Homo sapiens: one gene and its partners. The protein of the gene in region 7 interacts with the protein of the main gene of each other region in a biochemical or structural test. Each region holds a gene or a part of one and is shown on either strand. Other genes may lie near its edges. The genes, in order: UBE4B, SIAH2, RNF111, UBR5, UBE3C, NEDD4 and UBE2D2.

Region 1 (4,122 bases), on a different chromosome or scaffold from region 7:
AGCACTTTGGCAGGCAGAGGCAGGTGGGCCACTTGAGGTCAGGAGTTTGAAACCAGCCTAGTCAACATGGTAAAACCCCATCTTTACTAAAAATACAAAAAAAAAAAAAAATCAGCAGGGCATGGTGGCATGCACCTGTAATCCCAGCTACTTGGGAGGCTGAGGCAGGAGAATCACTTGAACCCGGGAACCAGAGGCTGCAGTGAGCCGAGATCATGCCACTTCACTCCAGCCTGGGCAACAGAGAGAGATTCTGTCCCAAAAAACAACAACAAAAAGAAAGTTCAAACTCCTAAACGTTTCTGACAGCCCTCCAAGATCAGGTACCTGCCACACACCCGAGGTAAAACCCACCTCTCCAGTCACACTACTTGCTGCTGTTTCTTGAGCTCCCCAATTTCGAGCCAGTTCCCAGGGCAACTGCTACTCAGCGTTAAGTATCACTTTTTCTTGAAAGTCTTCACTAAGACCCTGCCTCTCCCGGGGTCCCTTCTCATGTTTCTTAAGTGAGTTGTGCATACCTCCACCATAGCACCTGGCACTATTCTATAACTGTTGGATTCCTATCTATCTCCTCTACTCAAATTTAATTATAATTGCTTTTTTGTTTGTTTTTCTGTGTGTGTGTTTTTTTGTTTGTTTGTTTTTTTGATGGAGTCTTGCTCTGCCTCCCAGGCTAGAGTACAGTGGCGCAATCTCGGCTCACTGCAACCTCTGTCTCCTGAGTTTAAGCAATTCTCCTACTTCAGCCTCCTGAGTAGCTGGGATTACAGGTGCGTACCATCACACCCAGCAAATTTTTGTATTTTTAGTAGAGACGGGGTTTCACGTGATCCGCCTGCCTCGACCTCCCGAAGTGCTGGGATTACAGGCGTGAGCCACCGCGCCCGGCCCCAACTCCCAAATTTTTAACGCGACAGGCATTTAAAAAAAAAATTGGGAGTGGGAGGACCAGTACCAAAAGCCCTGATCACATCATGAATGCATTCATGCAAAACAGCACTTCTACAGAAAAACTATGTATATCAAAACAGAGTGGGTCAGTGTTACGTAGGATGTTGATACAAAAGCTGTGGTGAATTTATGTCAGTTGTTGAGCAGTAGAATAAAGAGGACTTTCGAGTCCAGAGCACTGGGTTTGAATTCCAACCCCATCACTTCTAAGCCAGGTCGCTATGGACAAGTTACTTAACCTGAATCCCAGTTTCCTGACTTGTAAAATTAGGAAAACAGTACCTGCTTGATTATAATGTTTTCTCTAATGAGAAACAGCTATCAAGTGCCTGGCACAGAAGAGGCTCCTAAGGCTGTTGTTTAATGTCAATTTTCTTCCACTTACAGAACCTTGCTAAAAAGTCCAAGGTCACATATTCTGCATTTGGAAAGGAATACTTAAAACACTTTCTAAATCTTTTTTTTTTTTTTTTGAGATGGAGTTTCACTCTTGTTGCCCAGGCTGGAGTGTAGTGGTGTGATCTCGGCCCACTGCAACCTCCGCCTCCCGGGTTCAAGCAATTCTCCTGCCTCAGCCTCCTGAGTACCTCGGATCACAGGCATGTGCCACCACGCCCAGCTAATTTTGTATTTTTAGTAGAGATGGGGTTTCTCCATGTTGGACAGGCTGGTCTTGAACTCCCGAACTCAGGTGATCCACCCACCTCGGCCTCCCAAAGCGCTGGGATTACAGGCGTGGGCCACTGCGCCCGGCCAACACTTTCTAAAATCTTGACCACACCCGGAATCCCAGCCAACCATCTTGCAGATGAACTAGGTCATAAAGAAGAGTTAGGAGAGAAAAATCACTTATGCAATCTCATTACCATTGTCGAAAAACAGTTTAAAACACCTACTTGGCTGGGCATGGTGGCTCATGCCTGTAATCTCAGCACTTTGGGAGGCCAAGGCGGGTGGATCACTTGAGCCCAGGAGTTTGAGACCAGCCTGGGCAACATGGTGAAACCCTGTCTCTAGAAAAAAATACAAAAATTGGCCAGGTGTGGTGGCATGAGCCTGTAGTCTCAGCTTGGGAGGCTGAGGTGGGAGGATCACTTGAGCCCAGGAGGCAGAGGTTGCAGTGAGCCAAGATCATGCCATTGCATTCCAGACTGGGCGATAGAGCCAGACCCTATCTCAAAAATAAACACACCACCTACTCACAGCACCACCTTGAGATACGAAAAACAACACATGAGTAGATTATAGAATTAATATAATGTAAATAATGATGCCTTGGAATGTAGGTTCCTGAAGAGAATGAACTTAGTCATGGTTCTGCAATGAACCTATAGGCAGTGAACTATAGGGCAATGAACTCACTGTAATACACTATATAAATAACAAACAACAGTGAAGTTAAAGTACTCTACTTAAAAGCACAAGACTACCGGGCACAGTGGCTCATGCCTGTAATCCCAGCACTTTGGGAGGCCGAGGCAGGCAGATCACCTGAGGTCAGGAGTTCAAGACCAGCCTGACCAACATGGAGAAACCCCGTCGCTACTAAAAATACAAAATTAGCCGGGTATGGTGGCGCATGCCTGTAATTCCAGCTACTTGGGAGGCTGACGCAGGAAAATCGCTTGAACCCGGGAGGCAGAGGTTGCAATGAGCCAAGATCGCGCCATTGCACTCCAGCCTGGGCAACAAGAGCGAAACTCTGTCTCACAAAAAAATTTAAAAAGCACAAGAATTCTAGGTGATCTATGACAGGGACCAAAAAGTGCACATAATTTAAAAGTTCCTAAAGCTACCAGTCTGGTTATACCAGCCTTTTTCACGGACTGTATAATCATACATTTTCATTTTGTTAAAATATGAAACTCTGCCTTACCTAATTTCCTAAATTAGATTAAAAGATCACCGCCTTGCCTGTTTTAACCCTGAAATATAAGCTTGAAGTTTCAATAATATAAGTGTATTATTTTGTAATCAAATCAATGTCACCTACCATATCTGACACAAGTTTTCAACTACAGAGTAACAATACAAAGGCAAAAGCTTTGGAAATGTCTCATGAGAACTGCTTACCTAACCTCAAAAATTTTTAATTGAATTAAAAAGAAAAACTTCAAAGATATTTTTCCCAAAATAACTATTTGTCTGGCTCCCACTTTGGGAGGCTGAAGTGGGAGGATCGCTTGAGGTCAGGAGTTTGAGACCATCCTGGGAAACATGGCAAGACCCCCGTCTCTACAAAAAAAAAAAAGATTTTTTAAATTAAAAACAAACGAATATTATTTGTTCTAGGTTCTGCTGAGAGTAAAATTAACAGTTATTGAACCAGCCCTTTGTGTTCTGGACAACTAATTTGTTGAAGATAATTTTACATTGATCCTGTATTAGTGAATTTAATTTTTTTCATTTATTTTAATATTCTGTTGACCTTGAAAAAAGTTTATTCTATTTCTTCCACAAAGGTTACATGTGTTCCTCATATGGTCACAAAAAAAAGTTACACCTTCCTCAAGGACTGATGAAAGTGAAGAGACACATTTTAGATTATACAATATCTTCACTGGTCTGTAATGCCTCACTGGTTTGAAAAGAATTTTTTGGTGAAAACTCAAGTATGCAAAAGCCTCTAAACCAAGGACTATTAACAGATCATCAAAAAAAAAAAAAAAAAGTAATTTATAGGAGTAAAGGACTACTAAAAAACTACCTCGGCCGGGCGCGGTGGCTCACACCTGTAATCCCAGCACTTTGGAAGGCCGAGGCGGGCGGATCACGAGGTCAGGAGATTGAGACCATCCTGGGCTAACACGGTGAAACCCCGTCTCTACTAAAAACACAAAAAATTAGCCGGGCGTGGTGGCGGGCGCCTGTAGTCCCAGCTACTCGGGAGGCTGAGGCAGGAGAATGGCGTGAACCCGGGAAGCGGAGCTTTGCAGTGAGCTGAGATCGCGCCACTGCACTCTAGCCTGGGCAACAGAGCGAGGCTCCGTCTCAAAAAAAATAAAATAAAATAAATAAAAAATAAAAAAAAATAAAAAAACTATCTCTGGCCGGTCACGGTGGCTCACGCCTGTAATCCCAGCACTTTGGGAGGCCGAGGCGGGCAGATCACAAGGTCAGGAAATCGAGACCATCCTGGCTAACACAGTGAAACCCCGTCTCTACTAA
Region 2 (4,122 bases), on a different chromosome or scaffold from region 7:
CAAGCAACATCCTTCACAAGCAACTTTGCTGGCCTCCCACACAGCCTCCTTATGAGCTTCCATCCCTTCTTTCTTCACAGGCAAACCGCTGCGCACCTTCAACATGCAGCTGGTGCCACCATGGCAGCAAGGTCTTCGGACTCCTTTCGGCTCCTAGTACTTCAGACGGGCTCTGCCCTATTGGCACATCTGTCTCCACCAGTAGACTTAGGAGAGTTTCAGAAAGACGAGAGGGGTGAGCAGAGGCAAGAACTGGCTAGGCAGATGGGTTGTGGGAAGGAGAGGGCCTGGAACTGCAGGAGATTCCAAGGCAAGAGTGAGTATGATGTAAAGTTGGTGGGGTCAGCAGCGGCCAACTCTGGCCTGACACTGCACCAGGGAGAAAAAGCAGGCTGTGGCATTAAGAAAACCAAAAGGTAACACCCAATGTCGGTGCTGCTGGGAAGAAATGGACATTCAACTGTAAACCATTCTAAGGGAGAAAACAATTTGGTTCTACTATCAAAAAGCTTCAATTTCTCAGGCCGGGTGTGGCGGCTCATGCCTGTAATCCTGCCACTTCAGGAAGCTGAAGCCGAATCACTTGAGCTCAGGTGTTCAAGACCAGCCTGGGCAACATGGTGAAACCCTGTTCCTACAAAAAATACAAACATTAGCCAAGCCTGATGGTGTGTGCCTGTAATCCCAGCCACTCAAGAGGCTAAGGTGGGAGGATCCCCTGAGCCCAGGAGGTTGAGGCTGCAGTGAGCTGTGATTATGCCACTGCACTCCAGCTTGGATGACAGAACTAGACCCTGTCTCGAAACAAAAAACAAAAAAAAAACACTGAGATTTCTGCATATACCCTTGGGCTCTACCATCCAACTTCAAGGAATTTAACTTTAGGAAATAACTATATTTTTGTGTACAAAGATTTGGTTATAGCAGTGCTTTAAAAAAAAAATCTCAGTAAGAAAAGAGAATTTAAATGACCACAAATAGGAGCCTGATTAAATAACTCTGGTACTGTTATAGAACTGCAATATGTGGCCATTAAATATGATCCTAAAGAATATTTATCACTGTAGAAAAGCAGTCACGATGTGTTAGATAAAGAATGTGTTAGATAAAGAAGCAGATTATGAAACAGTGTAGACAATAGGATTCCTCACCTGTATTGTTCTATTCTCAAATTGCTACAAAGAAATACTTGAGACTGAGTAAGTTATAAAGAAAAGAGGTTTAATTGGCTCACGGTTCTGCAAGCTGTACAGGAAGCATAGTGGCTTCTGCTTCTAGGGAGGCCTCAGAAAGCTTCCAATCATGGTGGAAGGCAAAGGGGGAGTGAGGCATCTCACATGGCAAGAGCAGGAGCAAGGGTGGGAGAGGTGCTTCACACTTCTTAAATAACCAGATCTCATAAGACTCACTATCATGAGAACAGCACCAAGAGGATAGTGCTAAGCCATTCATGAGAAATCCACCCCCAAGATCCAACCACCTGCCCCAGGCCCCACCTCCAACATTGGGGATTACAATTGAACATGAGACTTGATGGGGACATAGACCCAAACCATATCACCATCTCACTTGTTTTGTTTTTGTTTTTGTTTTTAAAGAAAAACTCCACCGATGTAGAAATAAGTTTGCAAGGATGTATGCAAAATGGTATAGTGGTTATCTTTAGGTGAGGGAGATTATAGGAGATTTTAATTTTATACTATTTTCTATATGTTCTACATTTAAAAATAATCATAACTTTAGAAAACATAATATGTAAAAATACACAAAATATAATACATATAATTTAAAATGCTGCTTAATCTAACCAGTTTTCCCTCTCAAAAAATTTAAAGAAATGAAAAAAAATCCTCATCACTGAAAAACCAATACAAGGGCCAACTTACACAGCTCTATGAAAATGCTATATGATTAAGAGTAGGGAAGGGAAGCTCATTGGGAAAATCTATGGGAAAAAATAGGAATGATTCCTTTTTTTCAAGTTTATGCATGAACCTGACCTCAGACATCGGCCATTTAGTTTCTGTTAGCTTCTAACTGAGCACATTTATTTAGTGCCTGGGCTGTGTCAGGCACTTTGCATGAATTATTAGTGTGTTTGGTCCTCAAGGCAACCTTGAGGCTTGGAGAGGTCACCAGCCAGTCACAGTGGGGCTGGAGTTGGGATTTGGACCAGGCCAGATGAGGGGCTGCCCTCAAAACTGCCAGAGTTAGAGGGATCCTGGGGGTAAAAGGGACCCAAAGATACTATCTTTGCTGATTCAAAATTTTAAAGCAGTGCATAGGCCGGCGCATTAGCAAAAGAATATTTTTCTTTTTCTTTTCTTCCCTTTTTTTTTTTTTTTTTTTTTTTTTTGAGACAGGGTCTCACTCTGTCACCCAGGCTGGAGGGTATTGGCAAGATCTCAGCTCACTGCAGCCTGGACCTCCTGGGCTCAAGCGATCCTCCCACCTCAGCCCTCTGAGTAGCTGGGAGTATAGACACGAGCCACCATGCCCAGCTAATTTTTGTATTTATTTATTTATTTTTTTTATTTTTTGAGACGGAGTTTCACTCTTGTTGCCCAGGCTGGAGTGCAATGGTGCGATCTCAGCTCACCACAACCTCCGCCTCCTGGGTTCAAGTGATTCTCCTGCCTCTCAGCCTCCCAAGTAGCTGGGATTACAGGCATGCGCCACCACGCCTGGCTAATTTTTTATTTTTAGTAGAGACAGGGTTACTCCATGTTGGTCAGGCTGGTCTCGAACTCCCAATCTCAGGTGATCTGCCCGCCTCGGCCTCCCAAGTGTTGGGATTACAGGTGTGAGCCACTGTGCCTGGCACAAATTTTGTATTTTTAGTAGAGACGGGGTTTCACCATGGTGGTCAGGCTGGTCTTGAACTCCTGACCTCATGATCTGCCCTCCTCAGCCTCCCAAAATGCTGGGATTACAGGCATGAGCCACCACACCTGACCAGGAATATTTTTCATCCATCTGTATATCACCTGTGGGCAAAAACTGAGAACAGGAAAACCCTTTTATTCCATAGATGCTACACAGTCTAAAAATCATTACATAAAATCTTTACCAAACTGGAAATGAGGAAAACAACAGTTTTGCAATCTAGGGCAAAGCTGATGAAATTCTGTAGAGCATTTCAGTATCCTTCATCAGCCTTAAAAGGATACCCCGAATCTTAAAATAAAGATACATTTGATCAGGAAGACTTTCTTATTTTCCTTTTCAGGATGTCCAGCGTGGAACCACATTCAAATACCCTGTGTATGATCATGTCCTGAAAAACTCGCCAGCAATACACAGTGGCTCCAAATGCTGGCACTGGTACACAGTTTAGCAAATGTGTATCTGCTACGTGCCCCTTTCAAGGAGTGAGGACCTTATGGGTTTGAATAAGAACGGCCATGTCTCACAAATTTTGTCAGAAGCAAAATCTGATGCTTAAGACATTTTACAGTGAAGCCTCACTATATTCATGTATACAGTACTTTTTAATGGGGCTTCAAAAAACAGCTCTACCACAGAACGGGAGAGTCTATCCCAATCTTGGGCTGGTATTTTATAGGCCAGACCTGCTGTAACTTTTGGTAAGCCTCTGTTCTGGTTATACTAAGGCTCAACTTTCACTGATAACTATTTACTCTAGTTCCAGGTCATGGTGACCTGTGAAAAATCTTTGGCCAGTTATGTGTGGAATTACCATTAAGCTTAAGTACTGCCATATAGTATTCTAATGCTTCTGCTTTATACAAAAAGTAAACTACAACGAAAGGTGTATTATCAATTTTGTTCTTTAAAATCTTGAGCCCCGGAGTTAATGTATGTGGACTCTGGTCCTTGCCAGTTCACTCTGTGCTTTTATGGGCCAACCTTGCCCATGTCAGGCAGTAGTGAGGACTTCAGGGACAACTTCCAAAGTAAATAGTTTTGTGTTAGGAGAATTCTGGGGGTTAGGAAGAAATTTTTGAAAGTATTTTTGGCTAATCGGCTTGTGCTTCCTGCTTCCAGGTGATCCCCCATTGCAACCTTCCAACCACCCCAATACCCCCCATATTCCATTCCATATGGTGAAGCAAAAGCCCTCAACAGCACTTCTAATCTGATTTCCAAGCACCCACTAAC
Region 3 (4,122 bases), on a different chromosome or scaffold from region 7:
TTATAAGTTTTTTTATGAATATGTGTTTTCATTTCTCTTGGGTACATACCTAGGAGTGGAAATGCTAGGTCACATAGCAATTTTGTGTTTAATTTTTTTTTTTTTCTTGAGATAGAGTCTTGCTCTGTTGCTCAAGCTGGACTGTAGCGGTGCAGTCCCAGCTCACTGTAACCTCTGCCTCCCAGGTTCAAGCGATTCTCATGCTTCAGCCTCCCAAGTAGCTGGGATTACAGTCAGTGCGCCACTATCCTGGCTAATTTTTGTATTTTTAGTAGAGATGGGGTTTCACCATGTTGGCCAGGCTGATCTCGAACTCCTGGCCTCCAGTGATCCGCCCGCCTTGGCCTCCCAAAGTGGTGGGATTACAGACATGAGCCACCGCGCCCAGCTTGTATTTAATTTTTGAGGATCTGCTAGACCGCTTCCCAAAGTAGCTTGTATCATTTTACATTTCCATCAGCAATATATGAGGGTTCCAATGTTTTTTTTTTATGCATCCTCTCTAACACTTGTTATTACCTGTGTTCTTTATTACAGCCATCCTGTTTGGCCCCATTCAACTCTTAGATCACATGTACCTGTGTTTTATCATTGTGACTTCTGTGTTCTTGCCTTTAATTAAAGTGATCCTTGTCTGACTGGCTGCCTTCTGTAATTTGCTCATTGCCATGCTCATGTTCACTCATCTTTGTATTCCTGGTTTATCACTGATCCTGCTGAACTACAGATAGCGCGTGATGGCTGATCTTGGATACAGCACTGCCTGTGCTTGTGAATAAGAATAAAAGAAGATAGTGGTTTTGATAGCTTTCTGTAGGAATAGGTCATTCTATGCCTTAATTATTGTCATTTGTTCTGATAGTAAAGTTATATACTATAGTAACATGGGAGACCTGTAAGATTATATATTTCTGTAACCCATTTGTAGAGAGGGAAAATACTTGCTTACTAAACAGCTGTTGTACTCGCTTTTTAGGAACTGGTTTCAAAATGTATTTTATGGGCAAAACAAATCTGTGGTGTCAGAAGTTACAATAGTGGTTAACAGTTTGGTGGGCTGTAGTAATGGGAAGAAGATTTCTAGGGTGCTGGTTATGTTGTTTATCTGTGTGCCAGTTACATAGAGGTGTTCATTTTTTTAGTGTTCATTCATCTATAAACTTAGAATATGTGTGTATGCTATACTTAATAAAAACTTGTTAAAAATATGTTAACATTGTTTATTCATGTTTTGCACTAGTAAAGCTCTTCATTTGTCACATTTACTGCCTTTCTGATTAATATATTTCATTTTGAGTCATGATATTTACTATTACATTATTTTCATATGTACATTGCATTGATGTAAATGCTTTAAATTCAGATCTCTTTTTGGCAGCTCGTAATTTAAGATGTTGAATGATTTAGATAGATTAGCTGTACAAAGTTTGATTTTATGTTCTGCTGTATTGTTTATTTAACTGAATGATCTTCAGCAGCCCACAGTCTTGGCTCTAATCTTTTTGTATTTAAAACTGAAATGCAGTAGTTGTGTCTACTATCAGGAGAATTCAGATTCTCATTAGAGAATTAATAGAGTAGTATGAAGGAAAAAAAATAGAAAAGAGAAGCTTATATTCATTAGCTCATTATTAATAATATCAATCTAATGTAGTAACCATCTAGATGTACAGAAACATTTAATAATAACCACTTAAAAATGTCATACCAGGAGTAAAACATGTTGACTAATTAGTCTTTTGAATTCGAATCCTTTTATTTATATTTCACTGAAATAGGTTTTGAAGTAATTGTTTGATTTGACCAAATATGTTTTGTTGCTGAAGGTAGTGAGATATGCAATAAGATCAGTTTTTGGTTAATAGAAGTTTTTAAGTAGGCTTATGCTCTATATCTACTGTATTTCTAAAAATTGGATGCATGAGTAGAGTGACCAGAGAAAAACGTTTTATAAGAATAGTAAAATAATTCATAACAGACATTTTGTGTACTGATGAGGAAAAGACAGTTCTGCCTTTATAAGGGATCTTCTTGGTGGAATTTGAGAACTCTTCAATTAAATAGTATAATAAAACACATTAAAAATCTTTTAAATATCTAATTTTGTCTTCTAGGCTTTCCTTAAAGTTTCCCATGTCTCAATGGACTCCTGAATATAACGAGCTCTACACCTTAAAAGTGGATATGAAGAGTGAGATTCCTTCTGATGCACCAAAGACACAGGAGAGTCTGAAAGGGATCCTTTTGCATCCAGAGCCCATTGGGGCAGCCAAAAGTTTTCCTGCAGGAGTTGAGATGATTAATAGTAAAGTGGGGAATGAATTCTCTCACCTGTGTGATGATTCTCAAAAGCAAGAGAAGGAAATGAATGGTAACCAGCAAGAACAAGAAAAAAGTCTCGTTGTGAGGAAAAAACGCAAAAGCCAGCAGGCTGGCCCTTCGTATGTGCAGAATTGTGTTAAAGAAAACCAGGGAATATTAGGACTGAGGCAACACCTAGGGACACCAAGTGATGAAGATAATGATTCCTCTTTTAGTGATTGTCTTTCTTCTCCTTCATCTAGTCTGCATTTTGGAGATTCTGATACTGTGACTTCAGATGAGGATAAAGAAGTCTCTGTAAGACATTCCCAGACCATTTTGAATGCTAAAAGTAGAAGCCATAGTGCACGGTCTCATAAGTGGCCTCGGACTGAGACAGAATCTGTATCGGGATTGTTAATGAAAAGACCCTGTTTACATGGCAGTTCGTTACGGAGACTTCCATGCAGAAAGAGATTTGTAAAAAATAATTCCTCACAGAGGACACAGAAACAAAAAGAGAGGATATTAATGCAGAGGAAGAAACGAGAAGTGTTAGCTCGAAGAAAATATGCCTTGCTACCTAGTTCTAGTAGTTCCAGTGAGAATGACCTCAGCAGTGAATCCTCTTCTAGCTCATCAACTGAAGGAGAAGAAGATTTGTTTGTTTCTGCCAGTGAAAACCACCAAAACAATCCAGCTGTTCCCTCAGGTAAAAATGTTTAAGCTGAGTAAAACATGGAACCTATTGCATTGCATTTGTGCTTAATTTTTTGTTTGTGTCTTACTGATTTTATTTAAAGGGACTATCAGGTTCTATTAACTTTTATTTTTAAGTCATATAAATTACCAATTGCAGTATTAAACCATGACTCTAATGCTAAGATAAAAATTTAAAAAATTTCTAGTGACAAAAATAAGTCAGAGTTTTTTGGGAGAATAACCCTTCATTACTTTTTTTTTTCTGAAACAGAGTCTCACTTTGTCACCCAGGCTGGAGTGCAGTGGCGCAATCTCGGCTCACTGCAACCTCCGCCTCCTGGGTTCAAGCAATTCTCCTGCGTCAGCCTCCCAAGTAGCCAGGATTACAGGTGCCCACCACCATGCCCAGCTAATTTTTGTATTTTTAGTGGAGACGGGGTTTCACTATGTTGAACAGGCTAGTCTTGAGCTCCTGATCTCAAATTATCTGCCCACCTCAGCCTCCCAAAGTGATGGGATTACAGGCATGAGCCACTGTACCTGGCCTCATTTATTACATTTTATACATATTAGATTATATTTTATGTATGTTCTTCATTTATGGTACACATTTTTTTCCTTGTGTTTCTTTAATATGCTTGACTGTTATGAATACTTTTTCAGCTACCTGTATGATGGATTCAGCCATAGTAAGAACAGTTCTAGTCACTAAAAAAGACTGGTTAATTTTTTTTCCTTTGTTTTTTTGAGGCAGCATCTGGCTTTGTTGCTCAGGCTGGAGTATAGTGATGCAGTCTTGGTTCACTGCAACCTTCACCTCCTGGGCTGAAGCCGTCCTCCCACGTCAGCGCCTCAAGTAGCTGGGACTACAGGCCCACACCACCACACCTGGCTTATTTTTGTATTTTTTGTAGAGATGGGTTTTGCCAAGTTGCCCAGGTTGGTCTTGAACTCCTTAGCTCAGGCGATCCACCTGCCTTGGGCTCTCAATATTTTTTCTTTAAGTACTATATTCTTGTTGTTTGCTGTTATCATGTTCTTTATAGCTGAAAAGTAATTTCAAGTAACTTTTATTCTAATACTAGGACCCAGAGACTTTTAGTCTCGACAGTGCATATG
Region 4 (4,122 bases), on a different chromosome or scaffold from region 7:
AGCTGATATAAATTTATTGATTTAAGAATAAACACTCCGTAATGAACAGTGTAAAATCTTTGGAAAATAAGATGGATTACTGATAGAACCTCTTGGTAGTTAATTGGTGTTAAGTGATATAACTTTACAGAATAATAGACAGATGTCTTGTTATTTCTGACAGAATTCCTGCTAAATAGAAAGCATTAAGGAATATCAATTCTTACCTTCCAGCCTTTGAAAGATTAAAGTAGTTATCTTTTTAAAACACTGATAAATAGTTTATGAGATGGTCTATAATTTGCTAAATAGAGCCAGGAGTTGAGTCTTAACTGCCTGAAACAGAGCTAAGGATTCAGATGGCTGATGTATAGTGTGTTTGTATTGGCATCATATGTGGGTATGATGTAATTATGCTTTACTTTATATTGTTCCAGAGTTGGTTAGATTTCTTTGCATGTCATCTTTGTATATCACTTTTTAAAATTGATATATAATTTCTGGTTTATATTGTGTGTATGCTAAGGCTTTCCAGTTGAAGAAAATGGATGGCTAATTAAGTCCTTTCCTGAAAGATGAACTGCTATGTTCTTACTTTTTTAGCTGAAATATCCTCAAGTGAAAAAGAGGAAGATGTATTCATGGGAATGGTTTGCCCATCAGGTACCAACCCTGATGACTCTCCTTTATATGTTTTATGTTGTAATGACACTTGCAGTTTTACATGGACTGGAGCAGAGCACATTAACCAGGTAAGTTATTTCTACATTTTCCTGTATTAATCATATCTTTGTGTCTTTTTTCGCTATGACTATCACTAGACTTACAGTTTTCAGCTTTGGAATTAAGTCTGATATGAAGAAAGTTGATTTAATTCCTAAGTAAATGAGGCAAAAGAGCTGATTGCTCAGTTAAATATGGCATACCATGAAAATTGGAAATTTTCACTGGGTAGTATAATCTGATCCACAAATCTTGATACAGATTTTATAACTACAATGCCTTTTTGGGGATGATACAAATTATTTTTTTCTACTGGTAATATTTCTATTTGTATATCATAAACTGTATATTTGCTGTAGCCCTTTATAAGTTCTAGTTTTCCAAAGCACATTAATTTTGTTTGTTGAGATTGAATTGTTCTAGAAAATACCAGAAATAATTATTATGATGAGATATATGCATACTTATAATTATTCCTTTAAAAGTACACTCTTAATTTTAGGATATTTTTGAGTGTCGAACTTGTGGCTTGCTGGAGTCACTGTGTTGTTGTACGGAATGTGCAAGGGTTTGTCATAAAGGTCATGATTGCAAGTGAGTACAATTCTAGTTTTCTTTAGTTTAATATTATAAGCTGTTTAGATTTATATTGCTGTATGGAAATAATCTGTACTAAGTCATGTTTTACTTCAGAAAGCATGAGGTTACTTACGTTTCCCTTGTTTAAGTCAGTTTATGTATAATAGTGTGATTCTTGATTTAAAGTATACTGTGAAATGTTTGGTTTCTTTGCTAGTTCAAACATTGCCCTCCTTAAATAAAAGTAGGTGATTATACATTGTAACTAGGATCAGATTAGTCTTTTGAGAAGTATATCTACAGAATGTTCCTGAGTGTATTATGCAGCGGAGGTCTCAGGTCCCCTGTAGTGGGGTATACTAGGAGAAAATTGCCATAGGCCTAGAGGGAATCATGGTGAATGTTTAGACTGTGTCTTAAACTAAATGCAACAGTCTTTCATTCAGCAACAGTTACCACAGCTAGTTCTGTTGGTTTTCAGAGACCTGAGAAGCAATGAAATACCTAGCACTAACATCTGTGGTGTTTTAGGATTATGGATAGGGACTTCAGTATAAATGGCTACAAATGTTATAATAGAGAATTGGACTGTAAAAACCATCTACCGTACCATTAAGTAATTGTATAGGACAAATGAAAAATTTTAATAGATATTAAAAGAATTCTGGTTGGTATTTTTTGTTTTCCTTATTTTAAGTACCTAAAGGTGTGATAATCTGTTGTTATTGATTGTTTTCCAAGTGTACTAGATGCCAGGGTGGTGGTGAATAGTCCTGACAGTGTTCACATCCCTATCAGAAGCAAGAAATATCTGCCCATAGGGTTACAGGGTTCATTAGGTCATATAGGAGGACCACTTGAACAGGACTGGGAATTAGGGAAGAGATTCCAAAAGTGATTGTACCTTAGAGTACCTCTTCTCATAGGAATTCTGTGTTGCTTTATAGATGTCATTACTACCAAGTAATCCTTCTTGTTATATAAGCTTTGACAGTTATACTTTGCATTTAGAAATTAACAAGGGCTCTCTCTGGTTTCAGTGAGTTATACCTTCATAATGTCAACATAAACCTTTGTATGTTTAAAAAATTTCAGTTTTTGTACTTGTGTATAAATTCTCTATAGACTCAAACGGACATCACCAACAGCCTACTGTGATTGTTGGGAGAAATGTAAATGTAAAACTCTTATTGCTGGACAGAAATCTGCTCGTCTTGATCTACTTTATCGCCTGCTCACTGCTACTAATCTGGTTACTCTGCCAAACAGCAGGCAAGTGGGATTTTTAGAACATACAGTAAGTTAAATCAAAAGAGCGCAGCACAGCTGAGTAGCTTTTCAGCCTCCCTCCTCACGACAACATTCTGTTTTGCAGGGGAGAGCACCTCTTACTATTCTTAGTACAGACAGTCGCAAGGCAGACGGTGGAGCATTGTCAATACAGGCCACCTCGAATCAGGGAAGATCGTAACCGAAAAACAGCCAGTCCTGAAGGTGAGTTAATTAGACATTTATGACACTTGTGGGAAGCAATATGTTTTATTTTTGTTTTGGTCACTATTTCTTTTTCATTTTAGATTCAGATATGCCAGATCATGATTTAGAGCCTCCAAGATTTGCCCAGCTTGCATTGGAGCGTGTTCTACAGGACTGGAATGCCTTGAAATCTATGATTATGTTTGGGTCGCAGGAGAATAAAGACCCGTACGTATTCATTAAAACCTTTTTAGATTTATGTATTTCCTACGTTAGTGTAGACCTTTTACAGTTCATTCTGTCTTTCGTTTCTCCTCAAGTCTTAGTGCCAGCAGTAGAATAGGCCATCTTTTGCCAGAAGAGCAAGTATACCTCAATCAGCAAAGTGGCACAATTCGGCTGGACTGTTTCACTCATTGCCTTATAGTTAAGTGTACAGCAGATATTTTGGTAAGTTCTTTGAATGTGTATTACAAGTACATGAAAAGTATGTTTTTCAAGTACTCTTCTTTGCTGTGAAACTAGAAAAGAATTTAAACCTTAAGATCCAGTGCGAATGAGGTTATGGTAATAACACACTCAGATAGGGATGGGGTGGCATTGCATCGTTCCTTTCTCTGGAAAACATAAAACTATCAGTGCCCTCAGAACCTGTCATAAATAAATAATTTACGATGTGAGAAAAATAAAGGCATGTCACAGAATAATGTAAAATTTAAAAACAGAAAAATATCAGCCTAATACTAGTGTAATCTTGAATCAAATTATAGCCTGACCACTTACTGGAATATGATGCAGCAATTTAAAAATAAATCGTATTGTAAATAACGTAAAAAAAAAAACCAAACAACCAAACTGTGAAAATTGGGTGTTCTCTGTAGCTAACATTTATACAAGAAGCTGCACACAGAAAAGAGACTAGAAAGTAATAATGGTTCCATGAGGGAGATGGGATTATGAATTTATTCATATAAATATTTGAGTCTGCTTTGCTGTTTTGGAAAGTGCCCCAGACTGAGTTTATGTTTTCTTCTTCTGATTTCATATATTTGGTATTGTTCTTCTAAATATTAGTTGATATACCAAGGACTGTGGGACAAAAAATAAGAAATCGTACATTTAGGACTCACTGTATGTCAAGCACATTGGCAGGTATATTTCATAAACTGACCTTGTAAATGTTTTGGTTAAATTTGTTTTGAGATTTTATTATAAAATGTTAATACTTAAAAAATGTTAGAACTTATAACTTTATGAATGTCTAAACATCTTATGAAGTATCTTAACATTAATAGAGTGAATATAATTTTTTAAAGCTTTTAGATACTCTACTAGGTACACTAGTGAAAGAACTCCAAAACAAAT
Region 5 (4,122 bases), on a different chromosome or scaffold from region 7:
TCATGTATTTTTTAAAATACAGTGTGTGACAGATGACTTTTAATGGTCTGCTTATAGGTAGAGAGCACCCTGTAAGCAGCCCGTTTTTCTTGGCTTGGCCTCATTTGTATTTTGAGAGATCTTTGTTTTCTGTGAGGTCACAAAGCCTTAAGTGCTCTCTCTGCCCCAGGCCTGGGGCTGTTTTCTCTAAGGAGCACTGATTCTTTTTGATGAGAAATGGAATTTTAACAAAATGTAAATGTTAGAAATTGTACTTCAAGTGTATGTTAGTAAGTCGACAGTCTTATCTGCCACGTGCCAGAACATTGAATTTTTCTTTTTCTGTAAATGTGGCCTTCCAGAACCACCTGCAGCTCCTTTTATGACTAATCACATACATATTTTTTAATGCCGTTGAACATTTCTGAAGTCATGGAATCACTGGGTCACATAGTAGTTATATATTTCACTTTAGAAGAAACTACCAAACTTAGGACAGCAGCATAGGAGAGGCGCAGTTCCTCCATATCCTGAACCCTTGGTATTGACATTTGTCAAAACCCAGCCATTCTGATGGGTGTGTAGCTGTATTTTATTGTGATTGGAATTTGTATTTCCTGGATTACTAATGATGACGGGTGTTTCTCAGGAGCATACTGGTCACTCAGATGGCTCTTTTTCAAGAGTCTGTTCAAATCTTTTACTTCATTTTTTAAGGTGGGTTGTCTCTTGACAATATGGATATCCTTTTCCCGTCCAAGGCTGTCCCGATAAACCTGGAGCTACATCCTATGTTGTCTCTCACACGAGGCACCGTTCCAGCACTTCTCTCTGTTGCATTATCAGGTTTACCTCTCACATGGGATTATCAGCACACATGCTGCTGACTTTTCCAGGTTGACAAGAGGCTCTCCCACCGCCCGCCGCTGCCCTTTGCGTCCCAGCGGCTTGTTATGTGTAGCCCCGCTCCTCCTGCACTCGTACACCCCTCGAGAGACACCAGTGTGGTGCTGAGGGGAAAGTTGTGAAAAGGGCAAAGACAAAACAAGGTCTGGCTGGGTGTCCTGCCCAGCCTGCCCGCTGGGTCCTCACCCCCTGTCTCTCCTGGGCTTTGCGGCTGTTGAGACAGAAGGCAGCCTGCGGTAAGCGGATAAGCCGTGTAGACACACCCCACCCAGAACCCTGCACGTTATTCCCCTCCTGGCAGGGCAGAAGGCTTTTGTCACATAGAGAAGTTAGTTTCAGTGAGGCATTGAAACAGCCTCCTGGGTCCCTCATTAAAGGTGATGTGTGGTCAGATGGATTCTGTTTTTTTTTTTTTTTAAGAAAAAGGAAAAACAGCTGTAAAATACCTTGTGAAAGCAACAGGAGAAATCTAAAAATAAGTTCGGTGTTAGACAAAGTTTTTGATAGAAAAAAGGATTGGGGTGGGGGGAAAGAGGGAGGAGTGGACTAGAGACAGCCAAGAAGAAACTTTCGGGAGTGGCAGATGTGCTCTGTGTCTTGATTGGTGCGGCCTGCCCGACTGCTTGTGCTGCCCTCTCTAAACGGATAGTTAACCTGCAGTTCTTCTCATAGTAAGAAGGGAAGCCTCAGTCAAAATGAGAGTTGACTTAGGACCAGAAATATATCATTGTTCTATTTGGGGGATATTGCAGGCGTGGAAAGTCTCAAAAGCATCTTTAAGGAGATGAGATGCACTGTTAAAGAGATTCGTATCTGAGTTTAATTAAATGCAGCTTCTTGGTACAATTCATGGATTATAATACTTCTTACAGTGTTTTGTAATCTTTAATTTTTCGTGTTCATTTCTCCACTGTCCATTTTTCTTGTCTGTGAACTTAGTGCCAGCATACCGTTTGGCACATAACGAGAATTCTTTTAAAAACTGTCTGAATGACTGAATGTTAGTTGGATGATTTCCCTGTCTATCTGTAAGATGTCCCTATTTTCAGAGATAATCTTGTACTGGAATAGTTTCTTAACCATTGTCACTGAGAGTAACTTGGGGAAACTGGTGACATTTTGCCATCCTGTAAGTGTGTGAATACTTTTTTCATTTTTACAGGTTGCTGCAAAACTGTAATGATGACAGTTTGAATGTTGCACTTCCAATGAGAATGCTTGAAGTATTTTCGTCTGAGAATACTTACTTGCCTGTTTTACAAGATGCTAGCTATGTGGTGTCAGTGATTGAACAAATTTTGCACTACATGATTCACAATGGTAAGTAGTAGGCAGGATCAGAACTGTGGCTCAGCATCCTGATGGGGAGTGAGCAGAGGCCAGCCTGCTGCTGTGAGCCTGTGCCCTCAGTCTCAATGTCAGAGCGGTACTGGTGTCCCAGACGCCTTGTGCTCCATCCACAGGTGCCCACCAGAGTCCCAGATTCCAAAATCTGTCCTTGGCTCCACCCACTCTGAAAATTCAGAAACATGCTACTCTCTTTGCCTTTTTCTTTTGCTTGGAAGTGAACCAAAATTGACATATGCTTTCATCAGTTGTCCCGTCATCCAAGATTGGTGTCTGCAGTGCAGCTGCCGGTCCTTCACCTGACCAGGAAGGGCTCTTACCACCTCCTGGTCATTCTGAGTGAATGGGAAAGGTAATGCCACCAATGTATGAGTTGAACATCACTCCAAGAGCCTTATGAAAAAGTAAATTTTGTTAAATGATTTTTCTTCCAAGAGTGAGGTCCTTTCACATTAGTTCAGTAGAAGAGAATAGGATATTTAGTTTGAATTTTCTAACTCAGTGCTAAAGTTTTAATACATTGATAATGCTCCTAAAATGACTGCATCGTAGAAGCTATACTGAACTGCATCTGAAACCCTTGAGGACACATTAGTGACACTTTCTGGAGAAAAAGGATGAAATAAACATGATTTTTAAAAATTTTATGAAGTGAGCAGTATAAATCCTAACACAAAAGAACCTTTGGTCTCGACATCCTCATAGGTAGAAACCCAAGCACTTCAGGACTCCTGGGCTCGAGAAGTATTTGTCAGCATTAAAAATGTGCGTGAGACTAGTTGTGAAGGGAGGTCTGGAGAGCCGTGGCTGCAGACAGAATTATAAGCAGCTGTGCTTTCCTTCACCTGAAGTCATAGTCTGGGTTACATCTAACGGACTTGAAGTCTGGACCACTTGGTCCTCTTGGTCCTCTGTCAAAACTACAGAAATTAAACGCATACTCATTTCAGCCTTGCTGCTTGGCGTGTTACTATTTTTTAGACTCCTTAGTTTGTTGAAAACTTAGGGAAACAGTATTCCGAGTTAATTAAAAGTAAACTGAAAGTTGTGGAATTTGATCTTTTTAAAAACTAATAATTAAAAGTGGTTCATTGTGTTAGTTGACATATATACTGTTTTAAGACTAAGCGTTTGAGAATTTGTATTTGTTTTCTAAAATTGTAAGGAAGATATTTAAGAAATATGCATTATTTGAAATGTGTCCCAATATACGAAATGCTTAAAAATCTTACACAGAAACTGCCGCTTCTAGCATCTTCTGTGGTACAGCAGTTGTTTACTTTCTAACAGTCGATAAAATTTTAGCCTTTTAAATTATAGTATTACCATTATTTGTATTGTTATTGCACATTCTGTGCCATGAAGCTTTTTAACATTTGCAACAGAACCTTTGTCATGTTGTCAGTCTATTCAGTAAGTACATTGTTAGTTATGTTAGTCACTTTTTTAAAAAAGTCTCTGTGTATTTTTTAAAATTCTTGATGTATTTTTATCTTTTTAGTTTCATAGCAAAAGAGCTTTCAAGCTTTCATATGAGTTTCACTAGTTATCAGTATACACTAGGTTAGACTTGGGGTAGTTACAAAGTAGGTCTAATGATAAAGTACTGAGTATGCATTGTTTGGTGATCTTCACTCAAATACGAAGCTGTGTAGGACTGTTTCAAAAACTAGCCCATGCAGATGGATTGTTTTTAATGTGCTACCAAATACGCTTGTATATGATGAGATACTCAAAAATTGCACCTGAACCTTCTTATTCTATAAAAATGGAGTAAATGATTCTGAAAGAATATATGATTTGGATCATTCTTGATACCCAGAGTTATGTTCACTGCCTCCCACCCAGAGTTCCTATCAGAAGCGTAGGCTGGATATTTTAAGAGGTTCT
Region 6 (4,122 bases), on a different chromosome or scaffold from region 7:
GCGCCCGGCCAAGGCCTGTCCTTCTTAAAACTGTCTAGGATAAGAAAAACTGTGCATGTGTCTTTATAGCAGCATGATTTATAGTCCTTTGGGTATATACCCAGTAATGGGATGGCTGGGTCAAATGGTATTTCTAGTTCTAGATCCCTGAGGAATCGCCACACTGACTTCCACAATGGTTGAACTAGTTTACAGTCCCACCAACAGTGTAAAAGTGTTCCTATTTCTCCACATCCTCTCCAGCACCTGTTGTTTCCTGACTTTTTAATGATTGCCATTCTAACTGGTGTGAGATGATATCTCATAGTGGTTTTGATTTGCATTTCTCTGATGGCCAGTGATGATGAGCATTTCTTCATGTGTTTTTTGGCTGCATAAATGTCTTCTTTTGAGAAGTGTCTGTTCATGTCCTTCGCCCACTTTTTGATGGGGTTGTTTGTTTTTTTCTTGTAAATTTGTTTGAGTTCATTGTAGATTCTGGATATTAGCCCTTTGTCAGATGAGTAGGTTGCGAAAATTTTCTCCCATGTTGTAGGTTGCCTGTTCACTCTGATGGTAGTTTCTTTTGCTGTGCAGAAGCTCTTTAGTTTAATTAGATCCCATTTGTCAATTTTGGCTTTTGTTGCCATTGCTTTTGGTGTTTTGGACATGAAGTCCTTGCCCACGCCTATGTCCTGAATGGTAATGCCTAGGTTTTCTTCTAGGGTTTTTATGGTTTTAGGTCTAACGTTTAAATCTTTAATCCATCTTGAATTGATTTTTGTATAAGGTGTAAGGAAGGGATCCAGTTTCAGCTTTCTACATATGGCTAGCCAGTTTTCCCAGCACCATTTATTAAATAGGGAATCCTTTCCCCATTGCTTGTTTTTCTCAGGTTTGTCAAAGATCAGATAGTTGTAGATATGTGGCATTATTTCTGAGGGCTCTGTTCTGTTCCATTGATCTATATCTCTGTTTTGGTACCAGTACCATGCTGTTTTGGTTACTGTAGCCTTGTAGTATAGTTTGAAGTCAGGTAGTGTGATGCCTCCAGCTTTGTTCTTTTGGCTTAGGATTGACTTGGCGATGCGGGCTCTTTTTTGGTTCCATATGAACTTTAAAGTAGTTTTTTCCAATTCTGTGAAGAAAGTCATTGCACACGTATGTTTATTGCGGCACTATTCACAATAGCAAAGACTTGGAACCAACCCAAATGTCCAACAATGATAGACTGGATTAAGAAAATGTGGCACATATACACCATGGAATACTATGCAGCCATAAAAAATGATGAGTTCATGTCCTTTGTAGGGACATGGATGAAATTGGAAACCATCATTCTCAGTAAACTATCGCAAGAACAAAAAACCAAACACCGCATATTCTCACTCATAGGTGGGAATTGAACAATGAGATCACTTGGACACAGGAAGGGGAATATCACACTCTGGGGACTGTGGTGGGGTCGGGGGAGGGGGGAGGGATAGCATTGGGAGATATACCTAATGCTAGATGACACGTTAGTGGGTGCAGCACACCAGCATGGCACATGTATACATATGTAACTAACCTGCGCAATGTGCACATGTACACTAAAACTTAGAGTATAATAAAAAAAAAAATTAAAAAAAAAAAAAAAAAAAGAAAAACTGAGGAAATGTTACAGATTAGAAGAGACTGCAAAGACATGCCACGTAAAAGCAATATATGTTCCCAGATAGGTTCTTAGACCAGAAAAGGAAAAAGAGAAATTATTAGTAACATTTATCAAAATTTGGATGGTATCTGTGGATTGAATGGCATTGTTGTATCAGTGTCCATTTCCTAGCTTGGAAGGGGGTATGGTTGTTATGCAGGAAAGTATTCTTGTTTTAGAAAAATACACACTAGAGTATTTAAAGATGATGGGGCATTGTGTCTGCAGCTTGCTCTCAAGTGGTTCAGAAAAAGATTAATGAAAATGGCAAAAAAAGGTGATGGAACAATTGCAGTGAAAAGGTTAACAGTTGCAGAATCTGTATGAGAAGAATACTGGAGCTCTTTGTGTTGTACTTTCAACTTTTCTGATGGTTTAAAATAATTTTAAAATAGGACGGGCGCGGTGCCTCACGCCTATAATCCCAGCACTTTGGAAGGCCGAGGCAGGCGGATCATCTGAGGTCAGGAGTTCGAGACCAGCCTGGCCAACATGGTAAAACCCCATCTCTACCAAAAATACAAAAATTAGCTGGGCGTGGTGGTGCGTGCCTATAATCCCAGCTACCCTGGAGGGTGATGCAGGAAAATCGCTGGAACCTGGTAGGCAGAGGGTGCAGTGAGCTGAGATCACGCCATTGCACTCCAGCCTGTGTGACAGAGCAAGACTCCGTCTCAAAAGTAAATACATAATTTAAAAATAAATTATTTTAAAAATACACTATATTTATTCACTTCTTTAGTCCCTGCTCCATGAAAAATACTTTACAATGATCCTGGAATTAAAGAGTTGCAAAAAAGCACTAATGGCAAAAACAATACATGAAAGATTGGGAGAAATTACTAATACAGCTGCTGCTTAACCTATGCTTCTCCTCCTTTGTGTGTAGTACATAAAGGTTTGGGAAGTTTGTTCCCAGACTGAGTAAGGGTCAGTTTCTGCTCAGCCTTAGTGGGTCCAGAAGTATCAGAATATGCCCTTCTTACCCTGCTACTTATGCACTGTTGTGGCTGCTGCCACCAGGGGCATCTATTATTCTGTATGTGCAAACTGCACTCTCCATACCGATAGCGGAGACTCTGAACTCTTTCCTCTTTATTTCCTTCCTTCTTTTCCTTGCTTCAGTCAGCCTTTCTTATAGGAAACAGAAATCATTCTAGATGCTTTAAGAAGAAAGAAGCTAATACAGGGGATTAGATGCTTACAAAATTTTTGGAAGAGCTGGAAGAGTAGGTGCTAGGCTGGACTTCTAGAGCAGGGGTCCCCAACCTTAGGAACCAGCCACACAGCAGGAGGTGAGTGGCAGGCCAGTGAGCAAAGCTTCATCTGTATTTACAGCCACTCCTCACCGATCACATTACCTCCGGAGCTCTGCTGCCTGTCAGATCAGCAGCGGCATTAGATTCTCATAAGAGCATGAACCCTATTGTGAACTGTCCATGCAAGCGATCTAGGTTGTGTACCCCTTATAAGAATCTAATGCCTGATGATTTGTCACTGTCTCCCTGTCTCCCATTACCGTCACCCACACTTGGGACCATCTAGTTGCAGGAAAACAAGCTCAGGGCTCCCACTAATTCTACATTACGGTGAGCTGTATAATTACTTCATTACATATCACAATGTAATCATAATAGAAGTAGAGTGCACCATACATGTAATGTGCTTGAATCATCCTGAAACCACTGGACCGCATCCCCGGTCCATGGAAAAACTATCTTCCATGAAACCGGTCCCTGGTGCCAAAACAGTTGGGGACTGCAGTTCTAGAAGATCAGAAACATGGCAGAACTGACCCATCCAGGAAGCTACTACCTCTCCCAGTCAGAAAGGTAGATGATCAGGAGTCATCACCAGAACTGATGACTTCAAGAATATAATCAATCTTGACGTCTGGAAGCCACTACCACCACTACTTCGGTGACTTCCTATCAATATGTACAAAGCAAGTTACCAGATACTGGAATACTTTCGCAGAAAATTTAGATGTTTACATGACTGTGCTTATCAGCAGAAAAAGCCAAAGAAACAAAACAATATGCTCCACCTCATTTCCACTCTGCAAATCTCAAGTAAGTGCACTTAACTGGGGAGCCTACTTTGGATCCAGTCCATTAATTTCAATGGAGTGTGGGAAACAGTGTTTAGTTTTCCCACCTCCATATCACAGGGAGGTGCATGGGAAGGAGGTGGGAAGTGATGCTCAATTCCAGTCCCCGCATCCACCACACTGCTCTCCAATAAAGATCAGTGCATGTTATTCTCTACTGTGAATCTCAAGTGACCAGAGCAAATCTGGTATAAATTATACTACACTTCCTCCTTTGTTTGTTAACACTTTAAAGGTAAAATCCTGCACATGCAGCCAGGGTGATCTCTTACTATAAGTCACTTATATGTGGAAGAAGAGCCAAAACTCACTGAAAAGTGAGAGAAAGGTATTATGA
Region 7 (4,122 bases):
ATGAATGTTACGTTCCTATTTTTTACCTTTTTAATTAACAAAGATATTTTTAAAAGAAGACAAAACACTAATGAGGTACATTGAAATGAACACTCATATTCTTCAAGTAGAGGTATAGATTTGTAGAGCCCAGTCTGCCAGTATGTGTTAAGAGACTTAATCATCCATGCCCATTCACCCAATAATTCTAGTTTCATTTATTTATACTAAGAAAACAATCCCAAATGCTGAAAAAACTTTGTATACAAGTACATTTGTGACATTGTGATTTAGTTCTGAAAATTGGAGGTTACTTACAGTAGAGGAAAAAATAGATCGGTTCCAGCACATGCATTTAAAAGAGTATTGACCCTGGCCAGGCATAGTGGTTCATGCCTGTAATCCCAGAACTTTATGAGGCTGAGATGGGCAGATGACTTGAGACCAGGAGTTCGAGACCAGCTTGGCCAACATGGCAAAACCCCATCTTTACTAAAAATACAAAAAATTAGCCAGGTGTGATGGTGCGTGCCTGTAGTCCCAACTACTCAGGAGGCTGAGGCGGGAGAATCACTTGAACCCGGGAGACGGAGGTTGCAGTGAGTCAAGATGGTACCATTGCACTCTAGCCTGGGTGACAGAGGGAGACTTTGTCTCCAAAAAAAAAAAAGTATTGATCTTTACAAATATTGTGAAAATAGGAAAATACTGTGCTTGAGAAAAGCAGAAAAAAGAAAAAAGGCATATACACTGTAACAAGAGTTACATATAAAAGTATGTTGAGTGTCCAGAAATAGACAAGCAATGTTAGTTTTGGTATTTGTGTGGTGAAATGTGGTGTGTGATTTTTTTTTTTTTTTTTTTTTTTGAGAGGGAGTTTCGCTCTTGTTGCCCAGGCTGGAGTGCAATGGTGTGATCTTGACTGACTGCAACCTCCGCCTCCCGGGTTCAAGCAATTCTCCTGCCTCAGCCTCCCAAGTAGCTGGGATTACAGGCACCCACCACCACGCCTGGCTAATTTTTGTATTTTTAGTAGAAATTATCTGCTTATAATTTACCATTTGAACCATTAAGTAGAAATTATCTGCTTATAATTTACCATTTGTTTAATGCATGTATTTAGACAGGAAGCAACATAGTTTCATGGTAAAGAACATAGATTCTAGATCCAATTGCCTGTGTTCAGATCTCAGATCCACCTCTTATTAAATGAGGCTAGAGACACATTGGCCCCTGTATTCCTCAGTTTTTTCATCTGTAGAAAAGGAACAATAATACATATTTCATTGTTGTTACGAAGATTAAAGAAGCAAAAACAGACAGTTAACTGGTTCCTTGTAAGTACTCCAAAAACTGGGGATAAAGGCACAGTTGTCAAAAGTGTTGGGTATTTGTCATGTTATCACTTGGATGTCAAGACTCAATCTTAAAAAAAAATTATTATTATTATTATTTGTTTTTTTTTGAGAAGGAGTTTCACTTTTGTTGCCCAGGCTGGAGTGCAGTGGCGCAATCTCGGCTCACCACAACCTCCACCTCCCGGGTTCAAGCCATTCTCCTGCCTCAGCCTTCTGAGCAGCTGGGATTATAGGGCATGTACCACCACGCCCAGATAATTTTGTATTTTTAGTAGAGACGGAGTTTCTCCATGTTGGTCAGGCTGGTCTCGAACTCCCAACCTCAGGTGATCCGCCCGCCTCAGCCTCCCAAAGTGCTGGGATTACAGGTGTGAGCCACTGCTCCTGGCCACAAATTAATTTTTTAAAGCAAACAAAACTCTGAGACATTAATTTAAAATTTTTGGAGTCCCAGGCAGAAATAAAAACAGGATGCCAGAGAACCACATTTTTTTAAAGTTATTACAACTTTAATGAAATAGTTTTTTAGAGAAGTGTCCCCTTTTCTTTTGGTAGGCCCCCTTACAATTCAAGAGCTACTTGAGAAAGTGTTTGTGGACCTGTGCCTGGCCTGGTGAGGGTCCCATTGGTTGCACTTCCTTCACCAAATAGCAATAGAGATGTAAATCTAGTAATGGGACCAAGATAAGTAGAATTGTGTGAGAGGTGTGTGTTTGGTGGGGTGAGGTGTTGGAGACACAAGATAGCTGAAATTATTGCCATACCTCTTTTTGTTCTTCCCCTTGCCTAGCGTTGATTTTTTTTCAGCTATTCCAAATGATAAGGACTGTTACAAGTCTGATTTGTTAGGTTCTCTCTATCTGGATAGCTATCCTTTAAAATAGTTGCAGTGCCATTTTGTTGAATTTGATTGTATTAACTGTCTCAGATTTAAGGTTTTAATGAGTCCCTTTTTGTAAATTGAATGTATGGGCAAGTAGTTCTATGAAATGCCTTAATCCTGTATATGATATTATTCCTTTAACATATAGTCTGTCTTCAAGGACAGAAATTTTGACCCAGTATTCACTCTACTTTGAAGGTCCGTGATGGGGACCTAAATATTTAAAAAACAAAAACAAAAACACTGAAAAAAACTGAAGGGAAGCAGATAAGTGTGCCATAAAGCCATTTGATTATATGTTTTTAGAAGTGAAAGTAACTGTTGCTGTAACACTAGTGAAAAAGTAATACTGGCCAGGCGCAGTGGCTCATGACTGTAATCCACTTTGAGAGGCCAAGGAAGGTGGATCACTTGAGGTCAGGAGTTTAAGAACAGCCTGGCCAACATAGTGAAACCTGATTTCTACCAATAATACAAAAATTAGCAGGGCAGGGTGGTGTGTGTCTATAGTCCCAACTACTCGGGAGGCTGAGGCACAAGAATCACTTGAACCTGGGAGGGAGAGGTTGCAGTGAGCCAACATCACACCACTGTGCTCCAGCCTGGGCAACAGAGCAAGAGTCTGTCTCAAAAAAAAAAAAAAAGTAATACTGATGAAGAATATATATAGGTAAAAGTTCAGTGAAGAGACTATACAGGTTATAGAAATAAGAGTTACTATCTTTACAGAAGAAGGTATAGTATATGTATCAGTCCATTCTTGCACTGCTATAAAGAAATACCTGAGACTGGATAATTTATAAAGAAAAGGGTTTTGCCAGGTGCGGTGGCTCACTCTTGTAATCCCAGCACTTTGGGAGGCCGAGATGCGCAGATCACTGAGGTCGGGAGTTTGAGACCAGCCTGACCAACATGGAGAAACCCCATCTCTACCAAAAATACAAAAATTAGCCTGGCTTGGTGGTGCATGCCTGTAATCCCAGCTACTTGGGAGGCTGAGGCGGGAGAATCGCTTGAACCCGGGAGGCGGAGGTTGCAGGAAGCTGGGATCGCGCCATTGCACTCCAGCCTGGGCAACAAGAGTGAAACTCCGTCTCAAAAAAAAAGGAGGTTTAATTGGCTCACAGTTCTGTGGGCTATACAGAAAGCATGGCAGCATCTGCTTCTGCGGAGTCCTCGGGAGCTTTTACTCATGGCAGAAGGCAAAGGGGGAGCCACCTGTCTCACATGGCAGTAGCAGGACCAAGAGAGAGATGGGGGAGGTGCCACACACTGTTAAACAGCCAGATCTCATGAGAACTCTATCACAAGAACAGCACCAAAGGGGTCGTGCTAAACCATTCATGAAGGATACACCCCCATAATCCAGTCGCCTCCCACCAGGCCCCACCTCCAACGTTGGGGATTACAGTTGAACATGAGATTTGTGTGGGGACACAGATCCAAACCATATCAGTATATTAGAAACCAAAATGAATTCTTCATGAAATCAAGAAGCTAAGTAGTGTACTAAAAATCTTTTCACAAGGTCCAGATAGCCAGTACTCTCCTTTCCTGGAAAGAAAGAAAAGCCCTTTCTTTAAAACCTGTCCTTTAAAGTTGACTTATTAGAATATTTAGAAGAATAAGTTAAAGGAACATTCAAAAATTTCTAACTTCCCTGTTGTCATTTCCAGGAAATACATGAAGTCTTTCCTAATTGATGTTAGAATGTTCTATGCTTGAAGAGGGCTTCAGGTGATGACACCTGACAATAGGAAAATGTTTTTGGAATGCCAGCTGCCAGAATTGTGGGTAACAGGAATGAAGAGTCAGAAAACATCTCTCCTGATTTTTTAAAAAAACTTTTCATATACTCTTAAGGCAAGGAAATAGCATTTTTGTTACCAAACTGAATAGGGC

What was found.
Region 1: the proteins of UBE2D2 (region 7) and UBE4B form a complex in vitro, tested with the Homo sapiens proteins (6 studies listed by BioGRID and IntAct, with this or other methods).
Region 2: the proteins of UBE2D2 (region 7) and SIAH2 form a complex in vitro, tested with the Homo sapiens proteins (4 studies listed by BioGRID).
Region 3: the proteins of UBE2D2 (region 7) and RNF111 form a complex in vitro, tested with the Homo sapiens proteins (6 studies listed by BioGRID).
Region 4: the proteins of UBE2D2 (region 7) and UBR5 form a complex in vitro, tested with the Homo sapiens proteins (12 studies listed by BioGRID, with this or other methods).
Region 5: the proteins of UBE2D2 (region 7) and UBE3C form a complex in vitro, tested with the Homo sapiens proteins (4 studies listed by BioGRID).
Region 6: the proteins of UBE2D2 (region 7) and NEDD4 form a complex in vitro, tested with the Homo sapiens proteins (19 studies listed by BioGRID, with this or other methods).

What each region holds. Positions count from the first base shown.
Region 1 is NC_000001.11:10,035,586-10,039,707, reverse strand, and holds part of UBE4B (ubiquitin conjugation factor E4 B), read right to left. Parts: intron 1-4,122. UniProt on the Homo sapiens protein: Ubiquitin-protein ligase that probably functions as an E3 ligase in conjunction with specific E1 and E2 ligases. May also function as an E4 ligase mediating the assembly of polyubiquitin chains on substrates ubiquitinated by another E3 ubiquitin ligase.
Region 2 is NC_000003.12:150,752,993-150,757,114, forward strand, and holds part of SIAH2 (E3 ubiquitin-protein ligase SIAH2), read right to left. Parts: intron 1-4,122. UniProt on the Homo sapiens protein: E3 ubiquitin-protein ligase that mediates ubiquitination and subsequent proteasomal degradation of target proteins.
Region 3 is NC_000015.10:59,028,690-59,032,811, forward strand, and holds part of RNF111 (E3 ubiquitin-protein ligase Arkadia), read left to right. Parts: intron 1-2,114; coding exon of another isoform or gene 2,115-2,133; coding exon 2,134-3,013; intron 3,014-4,122. UniProt on the Homo sapiens protein: E3 ubiquitin-protein ligase. Required for mesoderm patterning during embryonic development. Acts as an enhancer of the transcriptional responses of the SMAD2/SMAD3 effectors, which are activated downstream of BMP.
Region 4 is NC_000008.11:102,294,067-102,298,188, reverse strand, and holds part of UBR5 (E3 ubiquitin-protein ligase UBR5), read left to right. Parts: intron 1-582; coding exon 583-731; intron 732-1,204; coding exon 1,205-1,296; intron 1,297-2,406; coding exon 2,407-2,553; intron 2,554-2,656; coding exon 2,657-2,775; intron 2,776-2,858; coding exon 2,859-2,985; intron 2,986-3,077; coding exon 3,078-3,207; intron 3,208-4,073; coding exon 4,074-4,122. UniProt on the Homo sapiens protein: E3 ubiquitin-protein ligase involved in different protein quality control pathways in the cytoplasm and nucleus. Mainly acts as a ubiquitin chain elongator that extends pre-ubiquitinated substrates.
Region 5 is NC_000007.14:157,176,643-157,180,764, forward strand, and holds part of UBE3C (ubiquitin-protein ligase E3C), read left to right. Parts: intron 1-2,047; coding exon 2,048-2,205; intron 2,206-4,122. UniProt on the Homo sapiens protein: E3 ubiquitin-protein ligase that specifically catalyzes 'Lys-29'- and 'Lys-48'-linked polyubiquitin chains.
Region 6 is NC_000015.10:55,986,885-55,991,006, forward strand, and holds part of NEDD4 (E3 ubiquitin-protein ligase NEDD4), read right to left. Parts: intron 1-4,122. UniProt on the Homo sapiens protein: E3 ubiquitin-protein ligase which accepts ubiquitin from an E2 ubiquitin-conjugating enzyme in the form of a thioester and then directly transfers the ubiquitin to targeted substrates. Specifically ubiquitinates 'Lys-63' in target proteins.
Region 7 is NC_000005.10:139,616,547-139,620,668, forward strand, and holds part of UBE2D2 (ubiquitin-conjugating enzyme E2 D2), read left to right. Parts: intron 1-4,122.